Linked DNA regions of Homo sapiens. The protein of the gene in region 2 purifies or fractionates together with the protein of the main gene of each other region. This does not show direct contact. Each region holds a gene or a part of one and is shown on either strand. Other genes may lie near its edges. The genes, in order: ISY1, POLE4, ISY1-RAB43, NUP133, ZZZ3, YEATS2 and MAP3K7.

What was found.
Region 1: the proteins of POLE4 (region 2) and ISY1 fractionate together in Homo sapiens (co-fractionation; one large-scale study listed by BioGRID). This does not show direct contact.
Region 3: the proteins of POLE4 (region 2) and ISY1-RAB43 fractionate together in Homo sapiens (co-fractionation; one large-scale study listed by BioGRID). This does not show direct contact.
Region 4: the proteins of POLE4 (region 2) and NUP133 fractionate together in Homo sapiens (co-fractionation; one large-scale study listed by BioGRID). This does not show direct contact.
Region 5: the proteins of POLE4 (region 2) and ZZZ3 purify together in Homo sapiens (affinity purification with mass spectrometry; one large-scale study listed by BioGRID and IntAct). This does not show direct contact.
Region 6: the proteins of POLE4 (region 2) and YEATS2 purify together in Homo sapiens (affinity purification with mass spectrometry; 2 studies listed by BioGRID and IntAct, with this or other methods). This does not show direct contact.
Region 7: the proteins of POLE4 (region 2) and MAP3K7 fractionate together in Homo sapiens (co-fractionation; one large-scale study listed by BioGRID). This does not show direct contact.

Annotation. Positions count from the first base shown.
Region 1 is NC_000003.12:129,133,564-129,137,063, reverse strand, and holds part of ISY1 (pre-mRNA-splicing factor ISY1 homolog), read left to right. Parts: intron 1-2,109; coding exon 2,110-2,232; intron 2,233-2,868; coding exon 2,869-2,990; intron 2,991-3,500. Other genes in the region: ISY1-RAB43 protein, read left to right, coding at 2,110-2,232, 2,869-2,990. UniProt on the Homo sapiens protein: Component of the spliceosome C complex required for the selective processing of microRNAs during embryonic stem cell differentiation. Required for the biogenesis of all miRNAs from the pri-miR-17-92 primary transcript except miR-92a.
Region 2 is NC_000002.12:74,965,143-74,968,642, reverse strand, and holds part of POLE4 (DNA polymerase epsilon subunit 4), read right to left. Parts: intron 1-3,500. UniProt on the Homo sapiens protein: Accessory component of the DNA polymerase epsilon complex. Participates in DNA repair and in chromosomal DNA replication.
Region 3 is NC_000003.12:129,091,564-129,095,063, forward strand, and holds part of ISY1-RAB43 (ISY1-RAB43 protein), read right to left. Parts: coding exon 3,462-3,500; coding exon of another isoform or gene 3,423-3,461; intron 1,031-3,422; coding exon of another isoform or gene 951-1,030; exon of another isoform or gene 937-950; intron 1-936. Other genes in the region: RAB43 (ras-related protein Rab-43), read right to left, coding at 3,423-3,500. UniProt on the Homo sapiens protein: Component of the spliceosome C complex required for the selective processing of microRNAs during embryonic stem cell differentiation. Required for the biogenesis of all miRNAs from the pri-miR-17-92 primary transcript except miR-92a.
Region 4 is NC_000001.11:229,484,342-229,487,841, reverse strand, and holds part of NUP133 (nuclear pore complex protein Nup133), read left to right. Parts: intron 1-228; coding exon 229-376; intron 377-1,313; coding exon 1,314-1,471; intron 1,472-3,500. UniProt on the Homo sapiens protein: Involved in poly(A)+ RNA transport. Involved in nephrogenesis.
Region 5 is NC_000001.11:77,676,159-77,679,658, forward strand, and holds part of ZZZ3 (ZZ-type zinc finger-containing protein 3), read right to left. Parts: intron 1-3,500.
Region 6 is NC_000003.12:183,704,297-183,707,796, reverse strand, and holds part of YEATS2 (YEATS domain-containing protein 2), read right to left. Parts: intron 1-3,500. UniProt on the Homo sapiens protein: Chromatin reader component of the ATAC complex, a complex with histone acetyltransferase activity on histones H3 and H4. YEATS2 specifically recognizes and binds histone H3 crotonylated at 'Lys-27' (H3K27cr).
Region 7 is NC_000006.12:90,580,573-90,584,072, forward strand, and holds part of MAP3K7 (mitogen-activated protein kinase kinase kinase 7), read right to left. Parts: intron 1-3,500. UniProt on the Homo sapiens protein: Serine/threonine kinase which acts as an essential component of the MAP kinase signal transduction pathway. Plays an important role in the cascades of cellular responses evoked by changes in the environment.

The DNA.
Region 1 (3,500 bases), on a different chromosome or scaffold from region 2:
AATTAGCTGGGCATGGTGGCGGGCACCTGTAATCCCAGCTACTTGGGAGGCTGAGGCAGGAGAATGGCGTGAACCCAGGAGGCGGAGCTTGCAGTGAACTGAGATCGCGCCATTGCACTCCAGCCTGGGCAACAGAGTGAGGCTCTGTCTAAAAAAATAAAATTAAAAAATAAAAAATAAAAAAAAAAAGAAGAAGAAAATACAAAATTAGCTGGGCATGGTGGCAGGTGCCTATAATCCCAGCTACTCGGGAGACTAAGGCAGGAGAATGGCGTGAACCCAGGAGGCGGAGCTTGCAGTGAGCTGAGATCACGCCATTGCACTCCAGCCTGGGTGACAGAGCGAGGCTCTGTCTTTAAAAAAAAAAAAAAAGAAGAAGAAGAAAATACAAAATTAGCCGGGCGTGGTGGTGCGTGCCTGTAATTCCAGCTACTCAGGAGGCTGAGGCAGGAGAATTGCTTGAACCCAGGAGGCGGAGGTTGTGGTGAGCTGAGATTGCGCCATTGCACTCCAGCCTGAGCAACAAGAGCGAGACTCCGTCCCACAAAAAAAAGAAAAAAACATGCTGGGATTACAGGCATGAGTCACTGCACCTGGCCAGCTTTTATTCTTTCACCAATCTGGTTGGTTGTCATTTTGTTTTTCATTTTTAATAATTACTTAGCCGGGTGCAGTGGCTCACACCTATAATCTTAGCACTTTGGGAAGCCTAAGCGGGTGGATCACCTGAGGTCAGGAGTTCGAGACTTGCCTGGCCAACATGGTGAAACCCCATCTCTACTAAAAATACAAAAATTAGCTGGGTGTGGTGGCGGGTGCTTGTAATCCCAGCTACTCGGGAGGCTGAGGCAGGAGAATCGCTTGAACCCGGGATGCAGAGGTTGCAGTGAGCCAAGATCATGCCATTGCACTCCAGCCTGGACAAGAGCGAAATTCCATCTCAAAAAAAAAAAAGAATTACTTAAATATTCTGGATTGTAGTCCTAGTCTGAAAATATCTTCTTTAGGGCTTTCTCATGTATCTTTTTTGTTTGTTTCTAGCTTCTTTTGTCTTTTTTATTTACTTATGTTTCCTGTCATGCTTTTTCATTAAACATTATGACAGTTCCTGTGTTATTAAAATACTTTGTGAAATAGCATTACAGGGGCTGCAGGATATCCCATCCCATACATATTCTGCAATTTACAATCATAGGTTATTCCCAAGTTTTCTCTATTATATAAATAATACTGTGATGCATATTTCTGTACATGAAGCTTTTTGCTATCTCGTGTTTGGTTTTTGTTTTTTTTTTTTTGAGATGGAGTCTCGCTCTGTCGCCCAGGCTGCAGTGCAGTGGTGCAGTCTTCGCTCACTGCAACCTCTGTCCCCTGGGTTCAAGCGATTCTCCTGCCTCAGCCTCAGGAGTAGCTGGGATTACAGGGGCCCCCACCACCATGCCTGGCTAATTTTTGTATTTTTAGTAGAGATGGGGTTTCACCATATTGGCCACGCTGGTCTTGAACTGCTGACCTCGTGATTCTCCCGCCTCGGCCTCCCAAAGTGCTGGGATTACAGGCATGAGTCACCGCACCCGGCCTGGTTTTGTTTTTTACTTAGGTAGATTGCTTTTAAACGGACAAATGGGTCCAAGTACTGATTTTAAAAAGGGCTCTACCACTTAAATAATTCCATGAATAGTATAGAAAAGTGTCTATCCATGGTATTTTCTTTTTCTGTGTGATGGAGTCTTGTTTTGTCGCCCAGGCTGGAGTGCAGTGGCGTGATCTCGGCTCACTGCAAACTCTGCCTCCTAGGTTCAAGCGATTCTCCTGCCACAGCCTGAGTAGCTGGGATTACAGGTGCGCACCACCACGCCCGGCTAATTTTTGTATTTTTAGTAGAGACGAGGTTTCACCATGTTGGTCAGGCTGGTCTCGAACTCCTGACCTTGTGAGCCACCTGTCTGGGCCTCCCAAAGCGCTAGGATTACAAGCATGAGCCACTGCGCCCACCTGGTATTTTCATGAACATACGTGCCACGTGTGTGTATAGCGTTGCATCAGGAGACAGCTTCGCTGGAGTGTGATTATGACTTGGAAACTCAGCTCCATTTCTGTTTCTTATAGCTCTTCCTCCTCCCAGAAAGACACGTGCTGAGCTCATGAAGGCAATCGATTTTGAGTACTATGGTTACCTAGATGAAGATGATGGTGTTATTGTGCCTTTGGAACAGGAATATGAAAAGAAACGTAGGTCTCTGGGCATTTTATTTCATAATAGATGGCATCTGTTTTCTGTTGTGTCCTTTGAAAACAGGATTTTCAATAGTGCTTTATGCCAGAAGGGAGTTTTCTTTGTTGCTAATGATCTTCAGGCGTGATGGTCTGCTAATTCCCTGACCCCTGTGAGGCAGTCAAAGCTGTGTGGGCCAGAGGTAACAGGTTGGGGAAGCCATGAGAGCCACGTCTGACCGGTCCCTGTCTGCTAGGAGGTCACCATGTGGATTCGTGCTAATACCAGTGCCCATGTGACACATCAGGCCAGGACTTTGGAAGCAAGTGGTCTGGAGCTGGAGCTGCTTTCTAGCATGCTCTGCCCCTGCCTTCTCTCTTTTCATGTGGACATGTTGGGAATCCACTCAGGTTGTGGAAGTGGGGAGGATTTGGGAATGTTCCCTAAAAAGCTGCTTTGTAGTGACTGAAGGCCAGAGCTGTTGTAGGACTACCATGCTTCACATCCATTTCCACCCACGGGGGCAGAATGAAGGGTGTCCCTTTCTAGAGGGGATGTCTAGACTTTCCCTGCATAGTGTTGGCCTTTCCCTGCATAGTGTTGAAAGCTCATTTAGAGACAAATAAATAGCACCTACCCTCTCTTGTGTTCAGTCAGAGCCGAGTTAGTGGAAAAGTGGAAAGCAGAGAGAGAGGCTCGGCTGGCAAGAGGAGAAAAGGAAGAGGAGGAGGAAGAGGAGGAAGAGATCAACATCTATGCAGTCACCGAGGAGGAGGTATTGGGGTTGGCCCCCTCTGGCACTCACTGCCATCTGTTCCAAGCCATGAAGTGTGGCAGGGAGGAAACTTGGCTCCCAAATACAGAGTCAGGGTTCACAGCCCAGCTTGCTCACCTGCAGGATGGCTGTGAAAACACTTGCGAGATTACAGGAGGGTTTCAGGAGGCAGCAGCCATGAGAGTGCCCTGCCGGCCGTGCTTTACACCAGGGCTTCCTTCTTTCCTTCTTAAAGACAGGCCCTTCTGCATACACTAGAATTAGACTGATAAACACAGAGGAAGCCATGAGCTTTAGCCCATGACCTCATCACTTCTGTTCACGTGTCAGTGGCAGTTGCTCTTCTGTAGTCTAACACCCCCATCTTTTTTATTTTTTTTGAAACGGAATCTGGCTCTGTTGCCCAGGCTGGAGTGCAGTGGCACAATCTTGGCTCACTGCAACCTCTGCCTTCCGGGTTCAAGCAATTCTTCTGCCTCAACCTCCCAAGTAGCTGGGACTACAGGCGAG
Region 2 (3,500 bases):
GGAAAAAAAAAAAAAACAAAGATCACAGGGCTCTCTTCTAAAGAACCAAATGAACTATATGGAGAAAACTAGAACAGCCTCTAAAACTGCCAGCTTCCCACAGCAAAGCATTCTGCATTCATACCCTCGGGGTCACCCAGGACAACATCTGGTCCCACCCCTGTTCACCCTAAAGCAAAGCTGCCAGGCAACAACCACCCCCTCATCCCATACACACACACACAGTTACCAAACAGCCTTATTCCCTTATTCTTAAATAGAATGAAAATCACCAGGTATCTGAAGAAAGCTACACAGTTGAAAGGATACCAAAACTTTTTTTAATGACCTAGATAATATAGGGAAAATAAAAACATAAGAAAAATAAAGCAAAAACACTTCTAATTTAAAAAAAAATAGAGGTGCTTTTCATAATGGCAAGTTCCTGTTGAGATCAACTGAGAAAGCTAAATAAAATATATAAGAAAAGGAAATCTTCAGGAATTGAAGAGACATCAAGAAAAAGCAAATGTGAAATCTAGAGACAGTAAGAACACAAAACAAACCCAGCCTCTAATGTTACTTCTGCTCTCATGACATCTGCCAATCTGAAAAAGCTGAGAAACTGGGCGGTTATTTGTGTAGGCTGAAGGAACCAAGAGTCAAATCCCTGAGTCTACCCAAGTAAGGAAGTCTGACACCCATCTTTCTTAAGCTAGAGCCCAAAAGGCTGCCCCCTCAGAGTAAGGACGAACTGGAATTTAATCAGTGCCCCTTCACAGGCCTGCAGCCTGAGTTCATATCAGTATGATAGTCCAGAAACCTTCAAGTCTTAGATCTGGATTCAGAAGTCCTGCACTGATAATGGCTGTAGGTGGCTTCAGGAGCAAATGGAAATTTTCTTTGGAGAAAGTATCACCATATGGCCTCAACTTATCTAACAAATACTTTTTAAAGAAAATAACCATTATCCAAAGATAGGCATATAGGGGGATAAAAGGCCATGTGACAGTACCAAAAGAAACAACAGACAAAAAGACAGTCTCAAGAGACTATGGATGTTAGATTCGGCACAGACTAGCAAACAAAAAACTCAAAAGGCTTTGAATATTAGGTCATATATTGGATGGAACATTCACTATAAAACAACTGTGTTTACTATGTTTACAGAACTAAAAGACAAACTTCAAAATACCTGCAGAAAATAAGAACAACAAAAAGTACTCACAAAAATTGCTTGATACTTTATTAAGCTAAAAAAAAAGACAACAGATTTGGAAAGGAACCAAACAGAACTCACAGTACTGAAAAATACAAAAACTGAAACTAAAAAAAAAAAACAAAAAAAATAGTTTAAAGGAAATGAGACAAATGGAGAGAATAAACTGGAAGATCAGAAAAAATTACACAGAATGCATACTAGAGAGGCAAAATTATGATTGAGTTTTTACATATATTTAATGGGAATCCCAGAGAGAGACACAGGAAAGAACAAGGCAGAGCCAATAGCTGAAGAGACACTCGCTGAGAATTTTCCAGGACAGATGAAAGACATTAATCTATAGATTCAAGAAGCTCAAACAAACTACATAAAAAGAAATCCACACCTCTGTACATCAGAGTGAAACCACAGAAAATCAAAGTGAAAATCTTAAAAGCAGACAAAAAACAAAAAGGATAAACTAGCTTCAAAAGAATTACAAACAGGTAATTTCTCTATAGAAAACATAGAAGCCAAAAAAAAAAGCAGTAAAATGATAGCTTCAATGTGCTAAAAGAAAATAATTTTCCACCTAGAATTTATATTCAACAAATTATCCTCCAACAATGAAATTCAAGGCATTTTCATAAGAAAAAAATGAGAGAGTCAGTTACCAGACCATACTAAATGAAGTTCTAAATGATTTATTTCAGGAAGAAGAAAATGATCACAAATGGAGGATCGGAAATACAGAAAGGAGGCCAAGCACAGCAGCTCACGCCTGTAATCCCAGCACTTGGGAGGCCAAGGCAGGCAGATGACTTGAGGTCAGGAGTTTGAGACTAGCCTGGTCAACATGGTGAAACCCCATCTCTACTAAAAATACAAAAAAAACTAGCCAGGCTTGGTGGTGCATGCCTGTAATTCCAGCTACTTGGGAGGCTGAGACATGAGAATCACTTGAACCCAGGAGGCAGAGGTTGCAGTGAGCTGAGATCGCACCACTGCACTCCAGCCTGGGTGACGAAATGAAACTGTCTCAAAAATAATAATAATCCAGAAAGGAAAGAAAAGCAAAGGTAGTATGTGACTAAATCCATATATCATTGACTGCATAATTCAGGAATAAAAATGCCTTATGTAGATTGACAAAGACAAAACAAAAATACATGACAATAACAGCACATAAATTAGGAGACGAGGAATTTGAAAATTGAGTTAATGGATCCTGAGATCTCAATTTGTTGAGAATGAGGGGAAAGGTACTAAATAGGCTTTGATAAATTAAGGACTTACATAGTAACTGATAATCACTAAAAGAATAGAAATAGAGCATATAACTTCCAAGCTGATAGAGGGAAAAAAATCAAATAATAATCCAAAAGAAGGCCAAAAATTGAGAGAAAAAAAAAACAAAACATAAAACAAGCAAATAAAAAGCAGGACAAAATAAGACAATAGAATTCAAACTCATAGATATGACCAATTACATTAAACATAAATAAATGACGTGCTCCAGTTATAGACACAGACTGTCTGAATTTAGGAAAATAATCCAGTTAAATTCTGTTCACAAATATATGGAAAGATAAAAATTAAAAGATTTACAAAAATCCGTACCGTGCAAATAAATACTAACTAAAGAAAGCTGATAAGCTTTAATAATATTAAACAAAATAGACTTTAGGGCTCAAAGCAGTTAGAAATAACAATAGCCAATTTACAAATATAAAAGGCTCAATCACCAACAATATATAACAACATTAAATTTGTATATATCTAATCACATGGTTTCATAATATATAATGAAAGAATAGACCCAGAAATATAAGTAGAAATAGTCCATAATCATAGCAGTAGAGTTTTAACACATAACTCTTTGAAACAGGTAAAATAAGCAGACAGAAGAAATTCAGTAAGAACACAGAAAATCTAAATTATACAATAACCAAATTTGGCATTGCAACCCCTCTAACAGCATCACTGAATTCCATCAAATATTCAAAAACAAAATAATTCCAATCTTTCAATAAGTTTTCCAGAGAATAGATAAGATAAAAAGTGGGCCAGGCGCGGTGGCTCACGCCTGTAATCCCAACACTTTGGGAGGCTGAGGCGGGTGGACCTTGAACACCTGAGGTCAGGAGTTCAAGACCAGCCTGACCAACATGGCAAAACCCCATCTCTACTAAAATACAAAAATTATTGGGGTGTGGTGGTGCGAGCCTGTAATCCCAGCTACTCGAGAGGCTGAGGCAGGAGAATCACTTGAACCCAGGAGGCAGAGGTTGCAATGAGCTGAGATCGTACCACTGTACTC
Region 3 (3,500 bases), on a different chromosome or scaffold from region 2:
ACTGCTTGAGCCCAGGAATTCAAGACCAGCCTGGGCAACACAGTGAGACCCCGTCTCAATTTACCCAGATCCTCCTAGATGGTATGAGATGACTTCATTACATTCCAAACAATCTGTTAAATTGCTCCTTGACCCAATTTCTAGAATAATTTTTTAAAAGTCTCTACATGGTTGACTTTTGTAATGTGGTTATAAGGAAGACAAAAAAAAAAAGAGTCTGGGCCAAGCGCAGTGGCTCATGCTTGTAATCCCAGCATTTGGGAAGGCCGAGGTGGGTGGATCACCTGAGGTTGGAAGTTCAAGACCAGCCTGGCCAACATGATGAAACCCCGTCTCTACTTAAAAAAAATACAAAAAATTAGCTAGGCGTGGTGGCGGGGGCCTGTAATCCCAGCTACTCGGGTGCCTGAGGCAGGAGTGGCAAGCGGAGGTTGCAGTGAGCCGAGATTGTGCCACTGTACTCCAGCCTGGGCAACAAGAGCGAAACTCCGTCATAAAAAAAAAAAAAAAAAAAAAGTCTGTAAAGATCTAAAATTTCCTTGGTAACCTTAATTGATGTAGCAACCAGTTTCAAAGTGTGAAACTTATTTGGATCCTGATCTCAACAAACTGGAAAAAATAAAACACATATGAATTTTATGGGCAATTATAAATCTGAATACAGACTGGCTATTTTATATTATTAAGGAAATGTCAGTATTTTTAGATGAGAAAATAATATTGCTGTTTTTAAGTGTTTAAATATTTTGTAGGTTCATGCTGGAATACTGCCAGGTGAAATGGTTTGATGTGAATTTGTCTCAATAATCCGAGGGAGGGGAGGTGACATGGTACAGATGAGAGGAGGTTGGACTTCAGTTGCTAATTGCTGAAGCAGGGTAATGGGTACCTGGGGGCTCATTATTATACTATTCTAAGCCAGATATAGTGGCTCACACCTGTAATTCCAACTACTTGGAGGTTGAGGCAGGAGGATTGCTTGAGGCCAGGAGTTCAAGATCAGCCTGGGCAACATAGCAGGACTGCATCTCTAAAAATATATGTATGTATATAAGTATGCATAAATAAATAGATAAAATACTATTTTCATAGCTGTATAAAATGTTCTATAGGCCGGGCGCGGTGGCTCACGCCTGTAATCCCAGCACTTTGGGAGGCTGAGGCGGGTGGATCACGAGGTCAGGAAATCGAGACCATCCTGGCTAACATGGTGAAACCCCGTCTCTACTAAAAATACAAAAAATTAGCCAGGCATGGTGGCGGGCGCCTGTGGTCCCAGCTACTCGGGAGGCTGAGGCAGGAGAATGGTGTGAACCCAGGAGGCAGAGCTTGCCATGAGCCGAGATCGCGCCACTGCACTCCAGTCTGGGCGACAGGGTGAGACTCTGTCTCAAAAAAAAAAAAAAGTTCTATAATAGAATGTTTTTTAATTAATTATTTTTTGGAAGACAGAGTCTTACTCTGTCGCATAGGCTGGAGGACAGTGGCACGATCTCGGCTCACTACAATCTCCGCCTCCCAGGTTCAAGCGATTCTCCTACCTTGGCCTCCGCAGTAGCTGGGATTACAGGTGTGTGCCACCATGCCTGGCTAATTTTTGTATTTTTAGTAGAGATGGGGTTTCACCATGTTGCCCAGGCTGGTCTTGAACTCCTGAACTCAGGCAATCCACCCACCTCAGCCTCTCAGTGTTAGGATTACAGGTGTGAGCCACCATGCCAGGCTGGAATGTTTTTCAGAAATGTCCTGGATAAATGGGAATTGGTGGCTGGGTGTGGTGGCTCACACCTGTAATCCCAGCACTTTTAGAGGTCGAGACGGGTGGATCACGAGGTCAGGAGATCGAGACCATCCTGGCCAACATGGTGAAACCCAGTCTCTACTAAAAATACAAAAGTTAGCCAGGTGTGGTGGTGCGTGCCTGTAGTCCCAGCTACTCAGGAGGCTGAGGCAGGAGAATTGCTTGAACCCGGGAGGCGGAGGTTGCAGTAAGCCAAGATCGTGCCACTGCACTCCAGCCTGGCGACAGAGCGAGACTCCGTCCCCCACCCCCAGCAAGAAAAGGTGGGGAAATGGTTAGGCTACGTGAGGAAAGCTCTGTTCATGCCAAGCACTCCATGTCCTAGTCTGAACAGGCTGTGGAAGGCAGGCCACATGGAACCAGGCACCACCCTCTTCCTGGCTGGAGTCAGGTCCAGGCCCTGTCTGTACATTTGAGTCAGAAGAATCAACCTGTTGGCCCAGCTACTCGGGAGGCTGAAGCAGGAGAATCGCTTGAACCAGGGAGACAGAGGTTGCAGTGGTTTTGCAGATCTTGCAGAACCAAGATCACGCCACGGCACTCCAGCCTGGGTGACTGAGTAAGACTCTGTCTCAAAAAAAAGAATCAACCTGTTGGGGTGAGGACCCCAGGGATAACATAAGAGCTAAAGAGCTTCTCCAGTCCAGGTCTGGGAAGGTTATATAGAAGGAAAACAAAGGTAAACAGCATCCTTCCACAGCAGCAGTTCTCAAAGTGGGATCCTTGGACCAGCAAGGTGGGTGTCACTTGGGAATTTGTTAGAAACGCACATTCATGGGCCCCACCCAGCCCGCCTGGATCAGATGCTCTGGAGGTTGAGGCCCTGCAGCTGCACTTGAAGAAGACTTCTGTGGGATTCTGAGGCACGGAAGCCATCAAGTGTCCCTGCTCTGTGTGCGGCACAACAGAGAAAGCCACAGACTTGAGGTCAGCAGAAGCAAACTCAAAGCCTACATGTGTATGCTCACAGGCCATGTGGACCCGGATAAATCACTGCACTTTTCTGAGCCTAGCCCCAGCCCCTGTCAAATGAGGAGAAGCCGGGGTACAAGAGCTAAATCTTGACACATGTGAAGAACAGCAGAGCAAACTTCAGCTCTCTTTCTTCTTTCCTCTAATTCCAATTTTGAATATAACTTTCTTTTTTTTTTTTTTTTTTTTTTTTTTTTGAGACGAATCTTGCTCTGTCACCCAGGTTGGAGTGCAGTGGCGTGATCTCAGCTCACTGCAAGCTCCGCCTCCCAGGTTCATGCCATTCTCCTGCCTCAGCCTCCCCAGCAGCTGGGACTACAGGCGCCTGCCACCACAACCGGCTAATTTTTTTTTATTTTTTTAGTAGAGACGAGGTTTCACTGTGTTAGCCAGGATGATCTCGATCTCCTGACCTTGTGATCCGCCCGCCTCAGCCTCCCAAAGTGCTGGGACTACAGGCGTGAGCCACCGTGCCCGGCCTTGAATGTAACTTTCTAAGTGATTAGCAGGATCAGGATTTGCAAAACCATGGCTCAAACTCTGGCTGGGACTCCCTCTGAACTCAGGGTTACACTGTGTTTAAAAAGCAGAGGGAGGCATGGACAGGCAGAGTGATGGGATTTGTGGTCCCGAGGAATCCCCAACTCACCGATCAGCAGCTGCACAATGTTGGAGCCCGCATACTTCCTCACATCCTCAATCCAGTGAGGCACCGACAGGAAGGAGC
Region 4 (3,500 bases), on a different chromosome or scaffold from region 2:
AAATTAAAAAAGCAAATTATAAGCAAGTCAACAAAATATATGTCTAATTGATGTTTATAAACTTACTCTGTCATGTTTTGTTAATCATCTCATGGGTAGTGTTCAGATTTTTACAAAGAGAATTGGTGAAATATTTTTATGAAATAATGTACAAAAATGAATTTAAAAAATCATACAAATATTTTTGTTTTACTTCTTGTTAAATGTAATCTTAAATTTAACTTTCAGTCTGAAGACCTGATTTTGTGTCAGTTGACGGTCCCAAACTTTTCAAACCAGACTGCCTATCTGTATAACGAAAGTGCTGTCTATGTGTGCTCCACAGGAACTGGGAAATTTTCTCTTCCCCAGGAGAAAATTGTCTTTAATGCACAAGGTACAGTAGCAGTTTTAGAAAGCATGATTGGTGAGCTCATTAGTCATTCTGAGTGCTTTTTTTCTCTTTCCCTGAATGTCACTTCAAGCATGCTGCTTTCAAATGTTTCTGAGACATTTCATACCACAACTACAGCAGCTGAAGCCATAACCCTACTAAGAAACCAAAAGGGTACTAGAATTTCCAAACTATTATATTTACAGACAAAGATAGTAACATTTGTTCCAGGAGAAGATGCCAAGAAGCAAAAAACTATTGCCAAGAGAAGTAATTGCTTATTCCTAGTTAGTAAAAGTGACATATTCTGAGTTGATGCTTTAACTTTTCCACACCCCTAGATAAGAAGAGCTTCAGGTGCTGGACTTATGCAGGGGGGCTGGTCAGGATTGAAGAAGAACCAAGCAGATACTTAGCTGAAGGGGTTGGGCAGAGGACAGAGTGCAGGTAGGCAACAGCATGGAACCCAGGTTTTCTAGTCCCAGCACAAGAACCTTGACAGAGGGTGGGTAGGATGTTACTAAGGTGCCAGGTAGGCTTAGACCTTTTTTTTTTTTTTTTTTTTCCAGTCCCCATTGACTGATGTGGTAAGTTAAAGTCAGAATTAAGAGAACTCCACAGGATTGAAAAAGCTCTTCTTCTGAGTTTTGCAGAAGGAATAATTTTCTTTTTTGGCTTACTAGACTGACTGCTGTCTGGCAAGGCTAGTTTTTATTGTCCTTAAAGCTGAAAGACACAGAGCCTGCTTCTTCAGATAGCAACCGGTTCTTAGCATTTGATTCTGGGATGTAAAGGATGAGTTCGAAGTAGGACTAATGTTGTAAAGGAAAAAATGTGCTTAATATATCATCAAGATGATTTTCTGCTTAGGGTGGTAGCTTTTACATAGCATTTTGTTGTTATTGTTAGATGTATTTGACTCTGTTTTCCTTTCTTTTAGGAGATAGTGTTTTAGGTGCTGGTGCCTGTGGTGGTGTTCCTATCATTTTTTCTAGAAACAGTGGACTGGTGTCTATTACTTCAAGGGAAAATGTGTCTATATTGGCAGAAGACTTGGAAGGGTCTTTAGCATCTTCAGTTGCTGGACCAAACAGTGAGGTAATGTGATTCGATAAGAATTTGAAGTTTTTATGTTATTTATTTTTTAGAGATAGTGTCTCACGCTGTCACCCAGGCTAGAGTGCAGTGGCACAGTCGTAGTTCATTGCAGCCCCAAACTCCTGGCCTCAAGCAATCCTCCTGCCTCAGACTTCCCAGTAGGTGCCTGGCTAATTTTTTGTTTTTTGGTTTGGTTTGGTTTTTGAGACAGAGTCTCACTCTGTTGCCCAGGCTAGAGTGCAGTGGCATAATCATAGCTCACTGCAGCCTCACCTCAACCTCCCGGGATCAAGCAGTCCTCCCCTCTTAACTTCCTAAATAGCTGGGACTACAGACATGCGCCATCTCACCTGGCTAATTTTTTATTTTTTGTAGAGACAGGATCTCCTTATGTTGCCTAGGCTGGTCTCAAACTCCTGGGCTCAAGAATCCTCCCGCCTCGGCCTCCCAAAGTGCTGGGATTACTGGCGTGGAGCCACCATGCCCAGCCTAATTTTTAGTTTTATCAGATTATTTTATACAAATGGTCTCAAAACTGAGACAGTTTTCAAAGACGTAATGATGCAGACATTAGTTCTTTTTATCTTCCTCATCCCTTCTGTCCTCTTTGCCTGGAGCAACTACATTTAAGCCTTTTAGTGATTTATTCTGGTATTTTTCTCCATATATCTAAGTAATGTACATATATTCCTGTCTCCTGATGCATCTGTTGATTTTCTACTACAGAAAATGAGGTTTTGGGTTACCTTATACTCCTTCCTCTGCCTTTATCATTCTAACATAAATTTTTTTCATTGTAATGACAATGTAAATATTGTTTATGGTTTGCTGATCCCAAATACTGATTACATGTCCTTTATTATAGAACTTTGTGTGACTCTTGGAGTGTATAATGACCTCGTTTTGTATTTTCTCACTTTCCTTTCATATGTGACTTAATCTTTTTACACACTCCAGGAGTTCTGTAGAGTGCCCCTCAATGTAGTTTTTCCCAAAGTCAAGTCTCCAGAAACCTTCCATCTGCACAGCTGTCATCCCAGAACTTCCCTTTTCTATTGTCCTCAAATCCTCAGGACCTGTCCTCTGCACCATGCATAGGTGGCCTCATCTCCTGTCAGCGGGGCCATTTCCCATTCCTTCTGCTTTCTATCTTCCTTTGTTGTAGTTAGTATCACAGATATTTCCAAGGAGCTTGTATTTCTGTTTCTTTTTATTCTGGGATGATTTTTTGAGAGGAATAGCCAGGTAAAAATTACCAATTTTATTCTGTTGTCTTGAAACCTGAAATATCCTATCCATAAGATTTTTATCATTCTTTTACAGAAGACTAAAAATAATTAATACTGTTTGGGGTAATTTCCATTTGAATAGTGTATGAAATATATAGACTACCTCTGTAATTCAAATTAAAGTGATTAAGTGTAGTTTTAAAGGAAAGAAACAATTTTTAACTTTTTTTTCTTTTCACAAAAGGGATTAATACCTTGCATTTTGTATTTTGTAATTATACAAAATTATACAAAGTACAAAATACCTTGTATTTTGTAATTAATACGATTACAAAAAAGGATTAATATCTATTTTGTAATTGTATGGTTATTATAATACTGTTATACATTCTGAAGCAATTTTATAGTATTCCATTTCTTTAAAATTTTTCTAAACCGTTGTTTAAATTTGTAATCAACCATTATGCTTAGGTAGTATACACTGTGATGAGTCGTGTAAGAGCAAACCTATAAAAAGATTCTGTTAATTATGATGAAATGTCCAAATTATTTTACTTACAACATAATCCCTGAATTACCTGTACCTTTTCTGTATGACTTTGGTTGATCATTTGATGCTATTTATAGTGTTTCAATAAGTATATGAATAATTGGTATGGACCAAGCTTGTCCAACCCACAACCCATGGGCTGCATGCGGCCCAGGATGGCTTTGAATGCAGCCCAACACAAATTCGTAAACTTGCTTGAAACATAAATTTTTTTTTTTTTAACTCATCAGCTATCATTAATGTTAGTGTA
Region 5 (3,500 bases), on a different chromosome or scaffold from region 2:
ACTGTACTTGTTGGTTGGGGGTTTTTTGACAAGGGTCTCACTGTGTCACCCAGGCTGGAGTGTAGGGGCGCAATCTGGGCTCATTGTAGCCTCAATCTTTTGGGGTCAAGTGATCCTTCCACCTCATCCTCCACAGTAGCTGAAAGTACAGGCGCACGCCACCACACCAGGCTAATTTTGTGTATTTTTTGTAGAGACGAGGTCACACTATGTTGCCCAGACTGGTGTCCAAATCCTGGGCTGAAGCGATCCTTCCACCTCAGCTTCCCAAAGTGTTGGGATTACAGGCATGAGCCACTGTGGCCAGCATAGTACTTTTAAGTAGTTTCACATTTTATCTCTGTTCAAAAAGGGGGAAATTTTCATTTAATGCAACCAAATTATGTGGTATGGAAAAATCTTATTTCAAATTCTGGCTGACAAGAAAAGGAATTATAAAACATTGTTTTGTTAAAAAATAAACTTTATTATCCTCAACTTACAGTAATCTTAAAAATAAATAAGGAAACAAACACCACAATAAGAAAGCCAAGGCAAAAGATATTAAACATATCACAGAATCATCTAAAAACAATATGAATGTTCTTAAGGCTTGGGGTAAAAATAAACAATTTAAAATAAAAATGATTAAAATGTAAAAATGAAGCATAACAAAAAAATGAGAAAAATTAAAAAATTAAATAAAGCATTATTTAACAGAGTTGAGAAAATTACCAATTTGGAGGAAAACATTTAGATTCTCATTTCACACCAATGCCAGATGAGGTAAAAACTTAAATTTATTTAAATCTAACTTAGAAAAACTAAACAAACAGAATTAAACCAATATTGTTTATTACAGTTCTGAAAAGGGAGGAATTTCATAAAATCAGCAGAACAAAATTATATCAAGATGTTTGGGCCAGGCACCGTGGCTCACCCCTGTAATCCAGCACTTTGGGAGGCCGAGGTAAGTGGATCACCTCAGGTCAGGAGTTCCAGACCAGCCTGACTAACATGGTGAAACCCCATCTCTACAAAAATACAAAAATTAGCCGGGCGTGGTGGTGTGCATCTGTAGTCCCAGCTACTCAGGAGGCTGAGGCAGGAGAATTGCTTGAACCCGGGGGGTAGAGGCTGCAGTGAGCCGAGATGGTGCCACTGCACTCCAGCCTGTGCAATAGAGCAAGATTCTGTCTCAAAACAAACAAACAAAAAGATGTTTGACTGCAATAATGTTAAAATCTATTTATCTTCAAAGTTCACAAGATAAATACATCTATAAACATGCTTCACCTCAGTAATTAAATAAATAAAGCACAATATGTCATACACCCCCATTAAACCTTTATAAAAAATGTTAAATGTTGATGAGTATAGGGTAACAACCACTCGAAAGAGAATACAAATTTATCCCTTTTGATTAATATTGTTCAGTATGTTTTAAGAGCCTTCAAAATGTACCTAAAAAATCAATTCTGGCAATATACAAGAGAGAGATAATACTATATACAAGAAACATGTATAAATATGTTCTTCACATAGGGGAATAACATATGTTCACTGCACAGAACATTTTACAATCATTTATAATGATAGTTATTAAGATGCATTGTGAGAATGGGAAAGTGGTACCTAACAGTAGGTTAAAAAGCAGGACATGAAATTAAATGTTTTTACCCACAAATACATAAAAAATATACATTAAAATAATGGAAGAAATATATCAAAATGCTAATAATTGTTATATTAATTCCCAAAATCTAATTCCTCAAACCAGCTTTCAAAATCATTAAAATACATACACACCCCTTATACACAAGTCAAAGACTATCTACTTTACCACTAATGGAAGCATAAGGTTTAAATTAACATAGTAAATGAGACAGAGGAGGCCAGCAATGCAATGAAAAAAACTCACTACAAAAACCTGGCACCTTAGGACACTTGGGCTAATAGACTCAATACCAGGATTCAAAACTATACAACTGAATCATATGCATAGGTCATTTACTAATTCTAATTATCTGCTTTACTATCTTCTCCATTAGCAAATGTGCTAATCTTTAGGCAATTGGTTGTTCATTACTGATATCAAATATTAAATGTAATAGAGCCTTGTTTGGGAGTAATTCCTTGAAATATTAAGTAGAAAGATAAATAGGTTAAAATAATAAAACAAAGGAAGTTCCATACACAGTAGCACCATTTTTATTTGGTGTCATCTGATAAGGAGAGATCTACACGTAAATTTTCCAGAAAATTGAAACTTAACATTTAATTAACAGAGTTTTGAAAATGGTTACTTTTATAGCAATCTCAAAAGACACCAATTTCTTACTTCCTTAAACATAGTACACAGAATAAAAGTTCATTATTAAAGTTATCATTGTGATGCATCAACTTACTAGGCTGCTCTACGATACTGTCATTCCTTCAGAAGTTAATGATTATAGGAGTGTATGTATTTATGTAATGGCCTTAAAACACTATTCTACTATAGTTCCACCTACTTTTTAATAGTTCTTCCTTTTCCCCTGTAGATGACATTTCAGCTGCCAATGTCCCTAACTCCAATGGCCAACACTGAAGATTTTTATCTGTGGACTAATTCCAATTAGTAGTTTCCTAATAAAGGCTAATGGCTTATTATACTTGGTTGCAGTCATTTTGAAGGCTTAGAGATTTTTTTATGTCCAGGATTGCTGTTATGTTTCAAATGGCTGAGGTCATTAGCAATAAATGTCAGCTGAATTACTGCCTCTAACTTACAAATATACTGAAGTTCCAAAACAACAGTAATAATAATATCTGAATAGTTTGATTAATCACAAAGTGATATTCTCCTCAAGGCAAGTTAGTCAACTCACTCCTCTCTAATAAGACAAAAATTACCTACATAAATGAGAAAAATCAGCTGAAAAGAAAAACAGAAAGGTGAGAACGAAAGGGTCAAACAAAATAATCAAGACTTTGGACTTTGGGAAATATTTACTGAGAGTGGTTTTCAGAGTACAATTATAGTGGTTATCAGAGCATTAACTACAGAAATTTGCACCAGAGTATATACCAAATCTCTAGTAAATACTACTATAAAAATGAAACTCTTCTAGCAACTATTTCTTGTAGGTGACTCCAAACTGAATTTTCATATGAAATTTAGGTGTTTTTATTTTATTTTTGACACAGGGTCTCACTCACTCTGTTGCCCAGGCTGGAGTGCAATGGTGCAATCACAGCTCACTGCAGTCTCAACCTTCTGGGTTCAAGCAATCCTCCCTTCTCAGCCTCCCAAGTAGCTGGTACTACAGGCGTGCACTACCAGGCTAATTTTTTTTCTTTTTTGGTAGAAACGTGGTCTGACTATGTTGTTGCTGGTCTCAAGCAATCCTCCCACCTCGGCCTCCCAAAGTGCTTGTATTACAGGCGTGAGCCACCAGGCCCAGCTTAAGGTAACTTAAAGTTACAGGTCTGTGGAAATTGGCATGGTGTCAGACCTTAAGGAAAAAACTCAAGTGAGA
Region 6 (3,500 bases), on a different chromosome or scaffold from region 2:
CAGGAGAATTGCTTGAACCCGGGAGGCAGAGGTTGCAGTGATCCGAGATTGCGCCACTGCACTCCAGCCTGGGTGACAGAGTGAGACTTCGTCTCAAAAAAAAAAAAAAAAAAAAAAATAGGTGGGGAAGGGGAGTAGTACAATCATTTTCTATCTGCTTCCATACAGACAGGCATTCCTAAGATGCTGATAATGATTTCATAGTTCCTGGCCCTGTCCTTTCTACAGTCTTAAAAGAAAATACATTCTCTTTTGTAAACAAGACAACCAGTGTTCCTTTATTAAATATCTGAATAAGACTCTACAATCCATTTTCCATTAGCCAATGACATTTCAAAAATGTCTCAAAAGTCCAAACCAGAGGAATGGACGAACAAATCGTGGTATACTCAATGAACTCTTGATGCAGGCAACAACAGAAATGAACCTCAAAATCATTATGGCAAGCCAAAGAAGGCAAACACAAGAGTACAAGCTAAATTATCCCACTTAAGTTCTAGAAGAGACAAATTAATCTATAGTGAAAGAAATGAGAATCATAGTTGGAGGTGCTGGTGTTAGGGACTGACTGGGAAGAGGAATGAAGACTTTTTTCTTAGAAATATTTTATTCAGGTTGAGTATTCCTTACCCAAGATGCCTGGGACCAGAACTGTTTCAGATTTCATACTGTTTTGGATTTTGGAATATTTGCATATACATAGTAAGATATCTTTGGGAAGGAACCCAAATCTAAACATGAAATTCATTTACGCTTCATAAATATCTTACACACAGAGCCTGAAGGTAATTTTATACAACATTTTAAATAATTCAAAACATAACACAAAGTTTTGACTATGTTTTAACTGACCAGTCACAAGGTCAGGTGTGAAATTTTCCACTGTGGCATCATGTTGGTGCTTAAGAAGTTTCAGATTTTGGAGCATTTAAGATTCAGATTTTTGGATTACCAATGCTCCACCTAACTTTTTTTTTTTTGAGACAGAGTTTCGCTCTTGTTGTCCAGGCTGGAGTGCAATGGCACAATCTCAGCTCGCGGCAACCTCCGCCTCCCGGGTTCAAGCGATTCTCCTGCCTCAGCCTCCTGGGTAGCTGGGATTACAAGTATGCGCCACCGCGCCGGGCTAATTTTGTATTTTTAGTAGAGACGGGGTTTCTCCATGTTGGTCATGCTGGTCTCGAACTCCCGATCTCAGGTGATCTGCCCGTCTTGGCCTCCCACAGTGCTCCACTAATCTTAATAAGAGTGTAGGTTAGATGGGTATGTATATCCAATTGCAAAAACACCCAACTGTACACGCAAAATCTGTATTTCACTGTCTGTAAACTATACCTCACTTTAGAAAAGGACAATAAGAATATTTTTCTGATCATGTCATCCCCTGCTTGAATCCTTCAAATAGCTTTTCATAACATTTAGAACAAATTTCCATTCCTTAACATGACCTAAGAGATGTGAACTGCGCCCTGTCTCCCTCTCCATCCTTAATCTTTAAGATCCAGACAGGTTGGTTTTCTATCCCTCAAATATACTCCCAATTTTCCTTTGAGCTTTTGGAATCATGGCTCCTTCTATCTGGAATGCTCTTTTCTTAGGTTAGCTTAATCAGATTCCAGCTGAAATCTCCCCCTTATCAGGGGCCTTCCTTGACCGTGCCCCATCCAACACAGCTCTCCCTACCTTCTCCCTCCAAAGTTCCTGGAAGTGCTCAATATTACTATCTGGAAAAATAAATGAAGGATTTTTTTTTTTTTTTTGAAACAGTCTTGCTCTGTCACCCAGGATGGAGTGCAGTGGTGCGATCTTGGCTCACTACAAGCTCCGCCTCCCGGGTCAGGCCATTCTCCTGCCTCAGCCTCCCGAGTAGCTGGGACTACAGGCGCCCGCCACCATGCCTGGCTAATTTTTTTGCATTTTTACTAAAGATGGAGTTCCACCATGTTAGCCAGGATGGTCTCGATCTCCTCAACTCGTGATCTGCCTGCCCCGGCCTCCCAAAGTGCTGGGATTAGAGGCGTGAGCCACTGCGCCCAGCCATAAATGAAGGATTAACTAAAATATCTGCCAAAATATAAATGACCACAGGGAACATAACTACTACCTTACATTAGTTTTCATCATTAATCTATTTGTTGATATTGCTACATCTTTAAAGGCTCTTTAGCTAAATGTTTAAAAGAATGTACAAAGTTATTATACACAGACACATGCAAACAAAAAGACAGTAAGCAAGGCAATATTAATAATAGAATTCAAGGCAAAAAAAATAACATGATAAAGATGATGTTATTAAAGGCACAATCACAAAAATACATCTTAAACTATACATCCAACAATATAGTATCAAAATACATACAACAAACAGAAAAAGGAAAGTTTAAGAAATCACACATCTCTATATAAAATTTAAAAGATTAAGACAATTTATAAAAATACAGATGATAGGCCGGGCGTGGTGGCTCACGCTTGTAATCCCAGCAGTTTGGGAAGTTGAGGCAGGTGACTCGCTTGAGCTCAGGAGTTCAAGACCACCCTGGGCAACACAGTGAAACCCTGTCTCTACAAACAATACAAAAATTAGTTAGGAGTAGTGGCAAGCACCTGTACTCCCAGCTACTTGGGCAGCTGAGGTAGGAGGATTGCTTGAGCCCAGGAGATGGAGCCTGCAGTTAAGCTGAGATCGCGCCGTTGCACCTCCAGCCTGGGTGACAGAGCCAGACCCCGTCTCAAACAAAACAAACACAACAAACAAAAAAGATGATATAGATATATATCTGGTAATTAACAAGCCAGAATTAACAAATACACACAACTCTGAACCCAACAGAAAAAAATCTTTTAAAAATATCTATAAAAGTTCATTAAGGTCGGATGCAGTGGCTCATGCCTGTAATCCCAGCATTTTGGGAGTCCAAGGTGGGTGGATCACTTGAGGACAGGAGTTTGAAACTAGCCTGGCCAATGTGGTAAAACCCCGTCTCTACTAAAAATACAAAAATTAGCTGGGCATAGTTGTGGATACCTGTAATCCCAGCTACTTGGGAGGCTGAGGCAGGAGAACTGCTGAACCCAGGAAGTGGAGGTTGCAGTGAGCCGAAATCACGCCACTGCACTCCAGCCTGGGCAACAGAGTGAGACTCTGTCTCAAAAAAAAAAAAGTTCATAAAATGTAAATCATACAGTAAGATATGAAGAAAGTCTCAAATTACTGCAAAATGTAGAAATATTACAGCCACATTCTGATCTTAATAAAAATTAATATTAGCTCACCATGATATGGAAAATAAGACACTCTTCTAATAACTCATGACTCAAAGAAGAAATTAAAACTAAAGTAACAGACTATTTAAAAACTAACGAGAACACAGTATCTCCAAACCTATGGAAATGTGGTCAAAAGTCACCATCAGAGGAAAATGGCAAACAAGCTTTCACTGCAAATACACATACAAATCCAATCCAGCAGGGTATTAAAAGCATAATGCATCATAACTGGA
Region 7 (3,500 bases), on a different chromosome or scaffold from region 2:
GCCTCCCAAAGTGTTGGGATTACAGGTGTGAGCCACCGTACCTAGCCCAACATTATTTTAAATGACTGTTTTTTCCCCAAAGATGAATTTTCATCAAGAGTAAAAAAGAGAACATATCAAGTTACAAGTATTTCCCCATCACACACATCCAACTAAAATGGTGACATACAAATAAATATTTCAGATATTCTTCATAATCCTTCATTTGTAAAAAACAGAGGAATGCAAAAAGGACTTTGGTTTTAAAAGGGAGGTCAATTTGGAAATATTTCCTTCTAAATTTATGAATGTTTTCTAAATCAAAATGTTTTTGATTAATTACTTTATGATAAGCATTTCTCCCCCTATGGTTGAAACCTCTTTGTTTTGGGTCTACAACTTTAGTCTCATACAATTAAGTAGATTTAAATTTAATTTCTTAATAAAAAATACAGAAGAATATGAGATGGTATATAGAACATTTCCATGCAACTACTATTGAAAGGCACAAAAACAAAAATCAGGTTTTGTGTGTTTGTGTGTTATTTTTAAAGAAATTCCTTTAAAAATTAATTTCTTTATGATGTAAGATGACTCCATTCCTTCAGACAAGTCATGTTAAAGAAAACAACCAAACACACACCTAACCTAAATGGAAAAGGATGTATGCCTTTGTGCTCTTAATTTATTATTAAATAATTCTTTTAATTGTTCTGAATTCATGTTATTTTTAGTTCAGTGACTACAGCTGTCAGTTTCATTTGGCCCTGTTCTATGAACTATCTGAATGGACCCCTGGTGATGCTGGCATTGTTCTGGCTGGAAATGCGGAACAAGACAGAACAAGCATAGATCATACATTTATTAGTTAGGACTTGGAGCCTCCAACTATGTTAGAACTTCAATATCTATTAATAAACTGTGGCAGAGTGGAACTGCCATCTGCTGACAAGATGGATTTGATAACATAAAAGTAAAGCTTTGATTATTCAAACTTTCTTCTGAATGTTTCATGCAGTCTTTTAATACCTGCCACAGTACATCTCACCCATTTTCTAGGCTTTTATTTCAAATAATATGCTCATGCTATCTTTTAAGCTACACGTGTACAATGCAAAAATTATCTCTGTAGCTACCTCTTAACTATAGTAATTCCAGATTTCTACTGAAATCAGTGGTCACTTTCACATGAAAGAATGTATTGATTATTTTAGGTATCCATAATTAAATAGTGACTAACAAATCTATGTACTCAGTTTGTTTAGACCACTATAAATTAGGTTTTTCTCTAATACCAATTCCCCATATATTTATAACTTAAACCTACAAAGTACATATAACTGTTTAAGTTCTATCTATATCTCCTCTTTGTAGCATATTTTAGCTTTTAAAACAAAACTTTTGTGTGTCTCCTTAACAAAGCTGAAGAATATATACAAATGCTGCAGTAATTTTATGTGTCCAATACTATAGCTTTGTTCCTACACTATAGTTGAGGTCAGCATTATGGGTCTCCCTTTTCAAAAGCAACCATTGTAAATAGTGTCTTTTTAGCACTCTGTAGTAAAGACCTACCATACGTGGCTTACTCATAGCATCTGGCCCTTTACAGCATTTTTTATCCCTGCTAAACAAAAGTATCTGCTAACTATAATAGAGTCGACATTAAAACAAGACTCGGATCTCATTTCTAACGTGTTGCCTTAGCCAAATCGCATAACTCAGCTCCTATTTTATCACATGTAATATAAGAGAACAAGATGGGCATTTAATTCTTATGATTATGCTGTGATACTTTCATGTACTCATTGAACAAATATGTATAGAGAACCTTCTAGGTTCTAGGCATTGGGGTTACAAAAGTGAATAAAGCGCCTTACATTTTGCTGAAGGAGAGACACAATTTCAGTTACTGGTAAGTACCATGAAAGATAATAGAAATGACAAAAGATCTAGGTTGTTCAGGGAATGCTTCTCTAAGGAAGTGTTAATAACATTTGAGGTGGGACTTGACTGGTGAGGAGTCAGTCATCTTAAGTTATGGGGGAACAGCGCTTTAGGCAGAGGAACAACTACAAAGAAAATTCATCTTAGTGACTTTCCCAACCCACGATGGTCACTTTATTCAAAACCTAGTTTTAAACTTGTCCCTACTCAATGGAACCTTCTGTGATTAACTCTATTTTCAAATTATGGCTTAAGTGTTTAATTTACACTATATTCAGTTTTAAATTTGTGGTCTATAGTTAACTGTTCTGTGTTTACTCCAGTCTGATATCATACTAAGTCAGACATTTTAAGGAGGTAATCCTAGGATTCTTCTATCATCTTTTTTTTTTTTTTTTTTTTGAGACAGAGTCTCCCTCTGTTGTCCAGGCTAGGGTGCGGTGGCATGATCTCAGCTCACTGCAACCTCTGCCTCCTGGGTTCAAACGATTCTCATGCCTCAGCCACTCAAGTAGCTGGGATTACAGGCCTGTGCCACCACACCCAGCTAATTTTTGTACTTTCAGTAGTGACGGGGTTTCTCCGTGTTGGCCAGGGTGGTCTTGAACTCCTGGCTTCAAGTGATCTGCCCGCACTGGCCCTCCAAAGTGCTCGGATTACAGGTGTGAGCCACCGCACCAAGCCCTATTTATCTTTTATAGTACCTCAGAGTATTACGCACAGATGAGAATGTTCATTAAATGCTCAGGACCAACTACACTAAAAAGGAAATCAGTATTTTGTTTCCCCTTTCCCATATTAGGTTTGGTTATAGAGTACTTCAGAAAGTACTGAGTGACACTGTAAATCCAGTGGAAAGGGCAACTGACTCACAAGTGAGAAGTCTCATATTCAATTCCCAGCTTTACCATTTACTTAGGCATGCGGCTTCTGGCAAGTCAAACTCTATGACTGCTTGTCAATATCTGTACAATGGGATATCATTTGCCCTGTCAACCCAGGATTAGTTGGTCACCAACTGAATTCTATAGGAGACCATGATCAGTCTTTAAAGAACTGCTAAGCTTACTATAGAAAACAGTTAAATACTGGAAAACATGAATGTGTTTTCATTTTAGAACTGGAAAAGACCTTAAATGATCTTGTTCAGTCAGTTTACATGAGTAACCACAGGCCCAGAAAAATGTGGTGACTTCCTCAAAGTTACAAAAATATATTATGGCAGAATCAGTACAGCATCTAAATTTTCTTTTTCAGTCCAGAACACTTTCCACTATACTACCCTGTGTAACACTTCTTGCAACCCATCCCCTCTTTTATTCCAACATTCTCTACAGCCAGTTCTAGATGGTAAACACTAAATGATGTTTAAAAAGTACCTAGGCAGATTTCTGAGGCTGAGACCTTACCTAATTTGACTGAATTGAATTGAATCTAAGATGTGCCAAACTAATACTACTGAGTTACAATATTAGAAATGCAAGATCAGCTAATGTCTTAGAAATATGTATCTACTAAATGGCTGCATATTTGGCCTGTAGTTGAATTATTATTTTTTTTACAGTTTCTAATTA